3 linked regions of the Homo sapiens genome follow. The protein of the gene in region 1 interacts with the protein of each later gene in a biochemical or structural test. Each region holds a gene or a part of one and is shown in the gene's direction. Other genes may lie near its edges.

The links.
Region 2: the proteins of DSCAML1 (region 1) and PTPRM interact in a biophysical measurement, tested with the Homo sapiens proteins (one large-scale study listed by IntAct).
Region 3: the proteins of DSCAML1 (region 1) and PTPRT interact in a biophysical measurement, tested with the Homo sapiens proteins (one large-scale study listed by IntAct).

What each region holds. Positions count from the first base shown.
Region 1 is NC_000011.10:117,787,106-117,790,754, reverse strand, and holds part of DSCAML1 (cell adhesion molecule DSCAML1 isoform 1 precursor), read left to right. Parts: intron 1-3,649. UniProt on the Homo sapiens protein: Cell adhesion molecule that plays a role in neuronal self-avoidance. Promotes repulsion between specific neuronal processes of either the same cell or the same subtype of cells.
Region 2 is NC_000018.10:7,948,235-7,951,883, forward strand, and holds part of PTPRM (receptor-type tyrosine-protein phosphatase mu isoform 1 precursor), read left to right. Parts: intron 1-946; coding exon 947-1,121; intron 1,122-3,649. UniProt on the Homo sapiens protein: Receptor protein-tyrosine phosphatase that mediates homotypic cell-cell interactions and plays a role in adipogenic differentiation via modulation of p120 catenin/CTNND1 phosphorylation.
Region 3 is NC_000020.11:43,187,098-43,191,220, reverse strand, and holds the start of PTPRT (receptor-type tyrosine-protein phosphatase T isoform 2 precursor), read left to right. Parts: upstream 1-1,314; 5' UTR 1,315-1,487; coding exon 1,488-1,575; intron 1,576-4,123. UniProt on the Homo sapiens protein: May be involved in both signal transduction and cellular adhesion in the CNS.

The sequences.
Region 1 (3,649 bases):
TGGGCAAAATTACCCCCGTCCTGGCTATCCTACAGAGCAGTTGTTACTGTATATGTGCATAAATAAGAATAAGAGGCATAAAAATGTACATCATGTGACAGTGCTTTGTATACAGAATGAGGCAACATATGAACACACACATGTAAAAACCACAGCAAACCCGTTTTAGCCTTATAAATGCTCTGCTGAAATGTGAGGCATAATTACTGTCATTTCATCATACAGGAACGATGAAGGTCTCACAGCTGTTTGTGGCTGTCTCCCCCTCCGTGGGCCCCAACATATGGAGAATTTTCCTAGCTTTGCTTTTCAGCATCATGGGGAACAGCTGATGAGGCACAGCCAGGCTGGCAATAGTCTTCCTGGAGCAAACTTGGCAGATCCCTTGAGGCCCCAGTGGTAGTGGGAGTGGGAGGAAGCCTACCTCTTCTCCCTCCTCCCATTCCCCTCCAAGGTTCTTAGATGCAAGTGTAGTCCATAGTCCTCTGGACCAACTCCCCCAAAGGGACATTCTCCCTGCAGGGAATCCACAGTCTTTTGTGGGAAGAGCAGTAGGCACAGTCCCATCTTATGTGACCTCATTTAAGGTCACAGTATTCACTGGAATCTCTGAAAACTCTGCCGAGTCGAGACTGGTGGACACCCTGCTACTAGGGTGACCCTCCCGCAGTCGTGGGGTATGAGAGAGGATAGGACCCCTGCGTTGGGGGTGGGAGAGGGAGATTCAGGTGATCACCTTGGGTAAAAGTCTTGCAGGGTTGGAAGGCATCTTTAAGGCTGTGGAATCTGTCCCCTAATCAGAGGCTGACTCCCTCTGCAGCTTTCCCACCCAGTGTCTTTTTCTGTCTTCACTAGCACTTCCTGCAACAGGGACTCCTTCCTTGCAAGGCAGCCCATTCCTGGCCACACAGCTCTGACTATTACAGAGCTCATCCTTAGAATGAGTCAAACCCTGTTGTGGTCTTGGACCTTCTACTCACTGGTCCTGATGTCACCGCTTGGACCACATAGAGCAAGGCAAAGCCCTCTTCCACTTGACAGCCCTGCGACTGTGATAGGCAGATGTCCTGCCCATCTGAGGCCCCTGCTCTGGACACGCAGCATCCCTAGTTGCTCTGATACACCCTCGAATGACATCGTTTCGGTGCTTCATGGTGCTCCTGAGTTCCACAATGGCTAGTTTTCTGACAGCAGGGTGGCCAGAACTGAGAGAACACTGGAGACAGCACTGTAGCCCCAGCTGGGATGCTGGTGAGCTGTGTCCCTGGGGTAGATGACTCCACCTCTCTAGGCCTTGTGAATGGAGGAGATTGGAAAAAATAATCTCTTAAGTCCCTCAAGCATTAACAATCTAAATCTAGGATTCTCTGGGGACAACTGTGCTGTCTGAGCTGACTCCCTGGAAAGAAATTTTGGCCATAAGGGACCTTCCTTTGACAGGCCCTGTCTAGAAAGGGCTGGAAGATTAAAGAGTCTGTCCGACAGTCAGCTGTTGCTCATAACTTCTCCTGGAGCTGATGGCACAGGGCCTTGGAGGTTGAAGGATAGCTGCGTCTCCACTGGACCTCGCAGGTTTCTGGTTGCTGGTCACAGAAACCATGTTTGTGCTAAGAATCTTAAAAACAAACAGCAAAACCACCCATGTTTCTGATGGACACAGGGAGGACACTTGAGCTGTGCTTTGCATGGGGATTGGAAATGGGGAGCGTTTTTTGGTCATCTCAATGACTAGGGTGGGGAGCTGCTGGCGTTTAGTTGGGGGAGGGATGGAATGTCTAATGACAGGGAGATTCCCAGGTAATTCTGAATTATCATACCCCAATTGATCTCTTTTGTCAGAAAATCCCCCCACAGTGTGCTCACACCATGGGGATGGTCTGAATCTAGCCTGTCATGTGCCTGCTGAGCCACACATCCTGGCATAAAGATGTGAAATGCAGCTCTGCCACTGCGAACTGTGCAACACCAAGAAATTATTTGACCTAAGAGCCTGTCTTCTTATCTGTAAAATGGAGTCTTGAGTAGTAGCTACATCCAAGGGCTGTTGTAAGAATTACATGTGCAATAATGCAAGAAAAAGGCTTCCCACCATGCCTGGCACAAAACAAATGCTACAAAGAAATGATGGGGCTGGGCATGGTGGCTCATGCCTGTAATCCCAGCAGTTTGGGAGGCCGAGGCAGGCGGATCACTTGAGGTCAGGAGTTCGAGACCAGCTTGGCCAACATGGCGAAACCCCATCTCTACTAAAAATACAAAAATTAGCCAGGCGTGGTGGTGCACGCCTGTAATCCCAGCTACTCAGGAGACTGAGGCAGGAGAATCGCTCAAACCTGGGAGGTGGAGGTTGCAGTGAGCCAAGATGGTGCCACTGCACTCCAGCCTGGGTGACAGAGCCAGACTCCGTCTCAAAACAACAACAACAACAACAAAAACAAAAACAAAACAACAACAACAAAACAAACCAAAAAAACCAAAAGATGGCACTGTGATGGGGAAGGTAGTGGTGGAGCAGGTGTGCCAGATTGGGTGGACATCACAGGCAGAGAGCATGGGACTTGGCCCGCTGCTTCCTCTTGTCCAAGGACCATACCAGCTCAGGCTGCCTGGTACATGCTCTGATGCTGTCTGGGAAACTCAACCCTCTCCTTGCCAGTGTCTGGGCTCAGACAGTTTCCAAGATGCAACATAAAGGGTTTTTAGTGAAGCAGCAAGACACCGTCTGGCTGGTCCTCCTCTGGGTTTTGAATGGACTTGGTGGGTGAGCCGGTGGGAGGATCACCCTACTGGTTGATCCTCTCTAGAACCAATTTTTCCAACTCTGGGATGAGAACAATCAGAGTGAGGGCACATAACACATCTCCCATGAAAACCTTTGTGTGGAAATACAGTGAAGTAATCAACCTTGCAAATCAATCCAAGAAACCTCTCCAGCTCACATCTGCATGAAGAACTCTGCGTAAGGCCTGGGAATTAGCAAAAGCTGTGTGGCTACTGCAATGCTCTGTTGCTATTGATTCTACCACTGTTGTTTTCTTATCTTGATCTCCAAATTAAGTTAATTAATGTGGTGGTAGGGTCTTGTCAGCCAAGCAGATGACAATTGTCTGTCGTTGGGAAAGGAAGTATAGAAGTCCAGGATGGCAAATCTACTTTTCCAAAGGACTGTTACTCTCAGTATAGACAGAGGACACCAGTCTCAGAAATAGAATTTCTGGCCCTATGACAGACTTGGTGAATCTGTTATCTAAGGCTCTGCATTTTTAACAAGCTCTCCAGGTGATTCTTATGCATACTGATGTTTGAGAACCACGGTTTTAGGTTATTATTATTATCATCAGAGGTGAGCAGTAAATATTTGTTGCACAAGGATTCACTTTTCCCACAAATACTTACTGCTTGCCTGCTATAATGATAATGCTTGTAACAACAGCCACAAATACTTAGGTGGTGCCAGGCACTTACATAAAGCAGAAACTGTCCCAAGCTCTTCATATATATTAACTCGTCCAACCATAACAACCCTTGAGGTAGACATTGTCACCACCTTTGTATAGATGGGGAAACTGAGGCACAGAAAGGTGAGGCAGTCTTGCCTGGGGTTACACACACTGCTTGTAAGTGACAGAGTAGGGATTCAAACCCAGGG
Region 2 (3,649 bases), on another chromosome or scaffold:
GTTGGTGTGAGAAACTTTATATATATGTGTGTGTATATATATTATATATAGAGAGAGAGAGAAAGAGAGAGAGAAGAGAGAGCACAAGAGCAAGAGCACATACAAGAGAGAGAACTAAAATCTCTAACCTGCTTTTGAGACTTTAAATCTCTAACCTGCTTTTGAAGCCACGAGGTTTGAGGCTTTAAACTATTGGAAGCATAGAATGGATTTCCAAGTGTGCATAACTAAAAGGGTTACTTAATATATGGGGATAATAAAAGACCATATATGGGGATAATAAAAGACCAAACTGCCCCAGCTGTGGAACTTTGTTTATGTGGTCCTGGGGATATGGGATGTAGAGAGGAACCTCTCTTGTTACGTATGAATGTCATTTAATAGTTACTAGGCACCTAATTCTGTTTGGTTTTGTATATCCAGGAAGAACGTCAAAAGGGTTGAACTATTCTTTTAGTCCTGTTCAATAGGGAGTACTCTAAAACCTAACTTATAGTTGAATGTTATTCTTAATACAGTGTTTATTACTTCATTTATAAAATGAGGTCAGTAATAGGATAGTGGGTGAGCTACTTTTATTTCCTAGTCAAGCATACAAATAAGAGAAAGTGCTATAAGACCAAATGTGGATAGTTTGAAAACAAGGTAACAAGTTTTCTGTATTTTTACTCCCCTGTTGCACTAATTAACATAATATTTTGAAGAGGCAAAAACAAAAAATGTCTTCACACTTAATTTTGCATCGCTCAGTCTTTAAGGTGTTGATCATGGCAGAATTTTAGTTTCCTGCTCAGCTATTCTCCTGGTACAACTGCCCATGGGTAATAAGCAACTGCACCAAGGTCTGCATGAAAACAGCATGGATAATATACCATTGGGTGTCTGACTGTTTTGCTCTGACAGCTTATATTGCTTCTTTTTGTCCTCCCCACCCCACTTGATACAGGGCATTGATGTGCGAGATGCTCCTCTGAAGGAAATCAAGGTGACCAGCTCCCGACGCTTCATTGCTTCATTTAATGTTGTGAATACCACCAAACGAGATGCTGGAAAGTACCGCTGCATGATTCGCACTGAAGGAGGTGTTGGAATATCAAACTATGCAGAGTTGGTAGTTAAAGGTATTTAATGTGTTTTTATACCAGAATATTCTTCTAAAGTAGATATGTTAGGTGTTGTTAGTTCATTATCCCTTTAAAGCTCAAACTTACCCTTGTCTGTTTCTGAGCAGTGGTTTGATGACAGGCTATTTTGATGGATTGCATTTTAAGTACAAATTTTGCACGTGAACAATATTTTTGAAAAATGTGTTTTATCTATGTTGATTTAGTTGCACAAAAAACAATGAATGTGCTCTTGGCAAAGTCTTCTGCCAACTCTATATACAGAGATTACAACTTATAAATTTTTTTTAAGGAATAAAATTTTTTACTGATGAAAAATCACTTAAAATGCAAATATTCATCAGCCAGCGTGTTTATGATAGCAGAGTGGTTAATAAAATGAAGCAGTGTCAGTATAAACATGCTCAGTCATATCACACAAGCCATATTGATAATTCTGTGTTAACATTCATAATGTTCCAGTTAGGTTCTATTACTATATTTTGCATGACTGAAAAATTGAGTCATTATATTTAAGAAGGTGGGGGATGAGGGAAAATAGAAAGGGGAAATAAGTTTCCTTTAGCCGGTTTAATGGGTTTTTTGTAGGCTGAGGAATTTATAGCATTAAGCCACCAAGACAATTTTTGGTCCCAGACAGGATAATTTGGACTTTGAGGTGTACCATGAGGCATTTTTAGACAACCTGTGGCAAGCCATTGCTGTTTTTCCTAGGAGAACAGAATGAGGACTGCTTTAAGAAAAGTTTTCCCTGCATTTGTTAAATATGGCACATAAAATTGATCTCTCTACATATATAATCCCAGCACTTTGAGAAGCTGAGGCCAGAAGTTCCAGACCAGCCTGGGCAACATATTGAGACTCCACCTCTACAAAAATTTGTAAAAATAAAAAAAGCTAGCCAGGTGTGGTGGCAGTGCCTATACTCCCAGCTAGTCAGGAGGCTGAGGTGGGAGGATTACCTGAGTCCAGGAGTTCTAGGCTGCAGTGAGCTATGATTGTGCCCCTGCATTCCAGCCAACCTGGACAGAGTGAGACCCTGTGTCTTAGACAAAAATTGTCTGTTTCTTATGTGGTATAAAAGCAATAGCTTTTATCTGCACATTTCTCAAGATAGGCAGCTTTAAAGATTGCTGGATTCAAATCCCAGAACTAGGTATGTGGCTATGGGCCAGTGGCTTGCCCTGTATGTGCTGCTGTTTCCTTGTGTGTAAGGTAGATATCAGATAATAATGTTATCTACCTTACAGGGCCATGAGGAAGATCAAATGCAAAGTGTATATTATATATAGGACACTTAGTATACATAGTGAGCAATGGGTGCTTGAAAGGCCCTTGGTGGGAAGGGAGAGGAGGACAGGGATAAACTTCTCTCTGGTCCAGTCTGTCAGTGGTCTTCACTGGGGAATGGATGTCTGAACTACCTTTCTGACTTTTTAAAAATGTAAATACCTGCCCACCTATTGTCTCCTCCCTGTCTGGCCACACCCATATTGAGTCAGAATATCCAGGGACACAGCCTCTGTTATAAAACCTCCAATGAGTCAGCCATATGCTCTGTTGTGAGATCACCACTGCCAGTGTTAGTTAGTCACACGTAGCTTATGGGGGACAGTGCACCCCAGTGAGGCCACCTCGAGAATCGTCTGCAGCAGTGACTGATGTTCGGCGTAAGGAAGTGCACATTAAGATATCTACTCGGATAATGTATTTGTCACAGCAGATTCTTAACATGTTTTTATTTGTGATGAGACTTGAACCAGCCTAATATTTAGGTTTAAAGTCTCTAACAAAACTAAGATTCTTCCCTGCTGTACACACCCTACCCTGTTGAAAGTGCTCTGGCAAGTGAGACATCATGATGTACAGAAAGGACACTAGTTTGCCTACAAACTGTTTTGTCATTTTAGAGTTCATCATTATCATCATCATTATTACTACCATTATTTAATTTTCATCTTGGTTCATTTGTTTTTGATTATTTTTCCTTTTCTTTCAGTTGCTATACTGCTTCACTGTGACCTGCCACTACCCATGTTATTGATTAGTGGGATGCAAATCTAGTAGTATCTCTAAAAATTCCCTTGTGGAAAAGTTAATTTGTTGGAAGTTATAAGTAAATTATAAATTTCTAGTCTACCTGAACAAACATAAATAGAAAGAATGAATAGATTCGTATTCATATTTGTGCACCACATTTTCCTGTCTTATGGCAGTGTAGTAGTATCTTGGCTCACTGTGATAAAAATTACCAGGGACTTATTTCCATTTCCGCACACTGCCACAGCTCATGACAATTTGCATGCAGTTAGGACTCAAATATGAAATTTAACTTTTTCTCCAATTATAATTTTATGGCCATATTTTGTATATAGATATATTTTTTAATGAGATAACATGCTAGATACTACTAGTTTTATAAGGTTATTACCTTGAGGCAATTACTTTAAAATATACACTAACATTTTTAGGCCACTTGTCTATAATTTAACACTTTTTTATATACCATATCATATTTGGAGTGC
Region 3 (4,123 bases), on another chromosome or scaffold:
CTGGGATTGTAAATTGGGCTTCCATGCCAGGGAACTGGGCCACTTTACCTAGTGGGGACTGGGAACTGGGGACTGACAGAGTGACGCCCTGTGTTCTCTGCCATGCCAACTTGGGTCCAGAGCCTGGGGCTCCCCACTTTTGGAAACCCTGCCATGCTTGATTTTCACAATTCACTTACAGTCTCCCCAGTCCAGTCCCTGGTACCCCAACAAGGATGGGGGTGGGGGGCTGTGCTGACACAGAAGAAGGAGGGCTTTGGCCAGGTAGCAAAGTGTTCACAAAGTGTGAATCCCTTAAGCATTTCTGGGTATCCCTGCCCCTGGCTTTTACATCTCAGACCCCCAGCCAAGACTCAGGTACCAGCTGCCTCCCAGGACAGCAGAGAGCCAGGCTGTGGGCCGTGGGCTGCCAGGGACAGCTCCAACCCTGATCTATGGTTTTAGGCTTTCAGCCCCAACCAGGTCTTTGTTAAGACCGAGAAGAAAAGGGAAAAAGCTACAAGGTTCTGTCTCCCTAGAAAAGGAAAGGGAAGGCTGCCAGGGAAAAATTGTAGGGGGTGGGGGGATGCCTCATGCCCCTTCTGCGCCCCCTTCCGCGTGGTGGTGGGGACAAGAGAGAGATGTGGGTGAAGAAGAAGGTGGGGTGGGCGGCTAATTGAGGGGGACGACGATTGTGGCGCGGTCAGCGATGCGCCCAGAAGAGTGTGAGTGGGTTGTGTGTGTGTGCGCGCGCGCGCTCTTAGATGAAATTCTCATCTCAGGGTGTGCCCGAGACCCTGGCCAGCAGCCGCCTGCCCCAGCTTTGGGCAGACGCCCCCACCCGCTTTCGCAATTCACCTGGCCCCTTATCTTGAGTTGCGAGGGCTGCTCCCTCCCTCCCTCTTCTCGCCACCGAACCCCCATTCACCTGTTCCCCACCCCGAGTTCAAACGGCTGCTGCAGCTTCCTCCTCCCCGCACCGCCCCCGTACCTGCGCCCCCACAGGGCAGACGATGCTTGGCTGCGCGGCGCGGCGCGGGGCGAAGAGGCGAGGACCCTGCCCGGCGTGTGGGTGCGGGGGTGATGTGTGGACGCGCGTGACTGTGCCAGCGGCCCGAGCTGGTCGGCCCCGGAGAGGGTGCGCGGGGGAGCCCGCGTGTGCCAGCCGCGGGCGTGTGCCAGGCGCGGGCGTGCGCGTGAGGGTGTGTGCACGGCCGAGGCGGAGCGCCCGGGCGGGCGGCGGCGGCGGCGGCGGCGGCAACGGCGGCGGCGTTAGGACTCGGGGGACACCGCCCCCCGCCCCCCGCGTCCCGCCCCCGCCCAGCCTCCCGCCTCAGTTCGCGCCGCGCCTCGGCTTGGAACGCAGGAGCGCCGGCTCCGGGAGCCCGAGCGGAGCCAGCCGCGCGCACAGCCAGCGGCCGCGCCGGCGATGCGGGGCCACCCCGCGCCCGCCCCAGTCCCGGCCCCGGCCCCCGCGGGAAGGGGCTGAGCTGCCCGCCGCCGCCCGGATGGCGAGCCTCGCCGCGCTCGCCCTCAGCCTGCTCCTGAGGCTGCAGCTGCCGCCACTGCCCGGCGCCCGGGCTCAGAGCGCCGCAGGTGAGTGCGCCCGCCCGGCTCCCCTGGGCTCCCCGCTCCCTCCTGGATGCGCGCGGGCCCCCAGCCGCGGGGCCCTCGGAGGAGAAAGTTGTGTGGGCTCGCGGGGGCGCGGGTCCCCATGGCCGGAACCCGGGTCTCAGCTTGCAGGCGCGGGAAGCAGTGTCCCCGCGCGCCCCGGCCAGCGAGCCCGGCCCCTCGCGTCCCTCGGCAGCCCGCGTTTGGCGAAGTTCCCCGCTTCAGTTTCCTGCCGGCCCCCCGGGCTGGAGTAACTTTCCGCGGTTGTTGCGAATATTTCCACTTGCTGCCTCCCACTTGTCGGAATCTGCCACTTGAGTGTTTGGGGCGGCGAGACGAGGAGCGGCACCGACGCCCGGGGTGGAGCGTTCTCTCCCGGGCAGCTCCTCGGGCAGCGCGCGCTTTTAGTGGGGAGGACAGGTCCCCAGCAGGCCGAGGCTGCCGGGGCGGCGGCTTTTCTTTTTTCCTCGGAGATACAGGAAGCTCTCCATTTGCTCTGAACACGCTGCTCCCCTAAGCAGGCCGCTGTAGGCACCCGAGGGGATGTTTGCGTTGATGACCGAGAGCAATACCTCCGCCCTACCCGCTGGCTTTTCTCCGAGGTAGCTGGGCGCCCGTGTTAAGGCCCTTGGAGGGGAGTGGATTTGACCCGTGAGCGCGTCCGCTCCTGAAAAGTTCGGGGAACTCATATTTGGGTTTGGCCACGGGAAGGCGGTGAGCAGAGGTAGTTCCCCAGAGTAGGGGGAGCGGGGGCGGGGGGGTGGTGCCTGCCGTGCTCCTAAAGGCACGTTGGCGGGTGCTGGAGGGCACCACAGTCCAGGGTCTTACACATCACCAAGCCCCACCGCAGGCAGCTTCCACCCCCGAGCCCCCCCCCCCCCAAGAGTAGCGGCGGAGGGAAGAGAAGGGAGTGCTGCAGGTGTACTTCCAAGTTCAAAATCACCTTAAAGTTTCTTAGCACCGATTGCTTTTGGTGTAACCACGCCGGCCTGAGGTGGCTGGGATTGCGGGGACAGGCTGAGATCAGCCCGTGGGACGCAGGAACAGGCTGGTTTCGGATCGCTAAGCAACAGCTGTGCCCATTTATTATTTCACCGAAAGAAGGAAAGGAAGAAAGAAAGAGCAAAAGAACGAACCTGTGGGGAGGTACAGCGTCTTTGCACAAGCTGCGTCTGAGGTTAAGGGCCGCTGGAAGGACATTCCGTTGGAAATGCTTTAGAGCCTTCCTTGCTTGGTACTAAAATGGAAGCGGAATAGGCGACTTCTGTGAAGGGACAGCCTGTTTCCCTGGCTGGGAAGTTGGGTGACGAAGACACTCCTTTTGAGGTGTGTGAAGCTGAAAGGTTGGATTAGCAAGTGAGAGAAGAGGGACAGCTACAGCACCATTCTAAAGATGGTGCACAATTCTTGTTTTCCTCATTTTGGGGGGTGTGTTAGGTGTGCTAGGGGAGGGAGGGGTACTAGGGAGGATGCCCGGGGCAGTCCTGGGGATCCAGGCATGATTCGTGACTCAGATTTTATATCCTCTAAGGCATGACCGGCCAACCACACATTAATACCACTCACGTTCCCGCGGCAGAAACAGGATCAAAAATATTCCATCACGGGTCTCGAATCGTTCTTGGGTAGCAAGCGGTAAAACCCGTACCGGCTCGGGAAGCTGTCCAGTGCTGAACGCCGCCCGTTCCGGATGCTCCCGCCAGGTGGCGCTCGCCCACAACTATTAAAATGCAAATCTGGTTGCTTTCATATCAGGAATAGAACTTCTTTTCAATTTTTAAATGAGTAATGTGTTTATTCAGCAGCCTTTTGTTAAAACATTTAGAGAAGTGTGAGGAGCGAGCACCTTTTCTTTGTTTGCTCTTTAGAATGCAGGAGAAAGAAAAGAAATCCTGGAATATGGTTTGGGAAGAAATCTGTGGTTCTTTTGGGTCTACCTGGGCAGGGTGGTTTCTGCAAACCTGCGATATAGCATATATTTAGCAAGTGGGTGCCTTTGTGCCAGGGGCTCCTTAAACGAATGGGATTAGCTTGTATTGGAGAACTGGTGCATTCTAAGCCTCACACATTTGTAGAAATGGGGATTTTCTGTATATATCTGTCCTCTCCTTTCCAGTTTAACGGCAACTAGACCATCTAAATTAGATTTTTTTTCCCCAGGGTTCCTCATGAACATCTGTATTTGTCAAAACAAGAATACTGTAAATGTTGACTTAAAAATGGACTTATCTTATTTTATTCCTAAATTCAGAAATTGTTAGTATTTCAAATCTAGTATAAATATGACAATAACTTGATTTCCTTTAAAGTATTTTATTTAAAACTTTTGGCAAGTTTGGACAAATACATTTTAAAACTAAGTAGTGTGTTTTCCATGTTCTTTTGATCTGAAAATTCCCAATCTTGAAAGCAATTTCAATTTATAAGGTTACATCCATAACATAGTTGGGCTAATATGTTTTGCTGTAACATGTTGGTCTCAGTGTCCAAAAGTCGGGGCGGAAGCTTGTCATCAAAAGGCAATTTCCTTTTT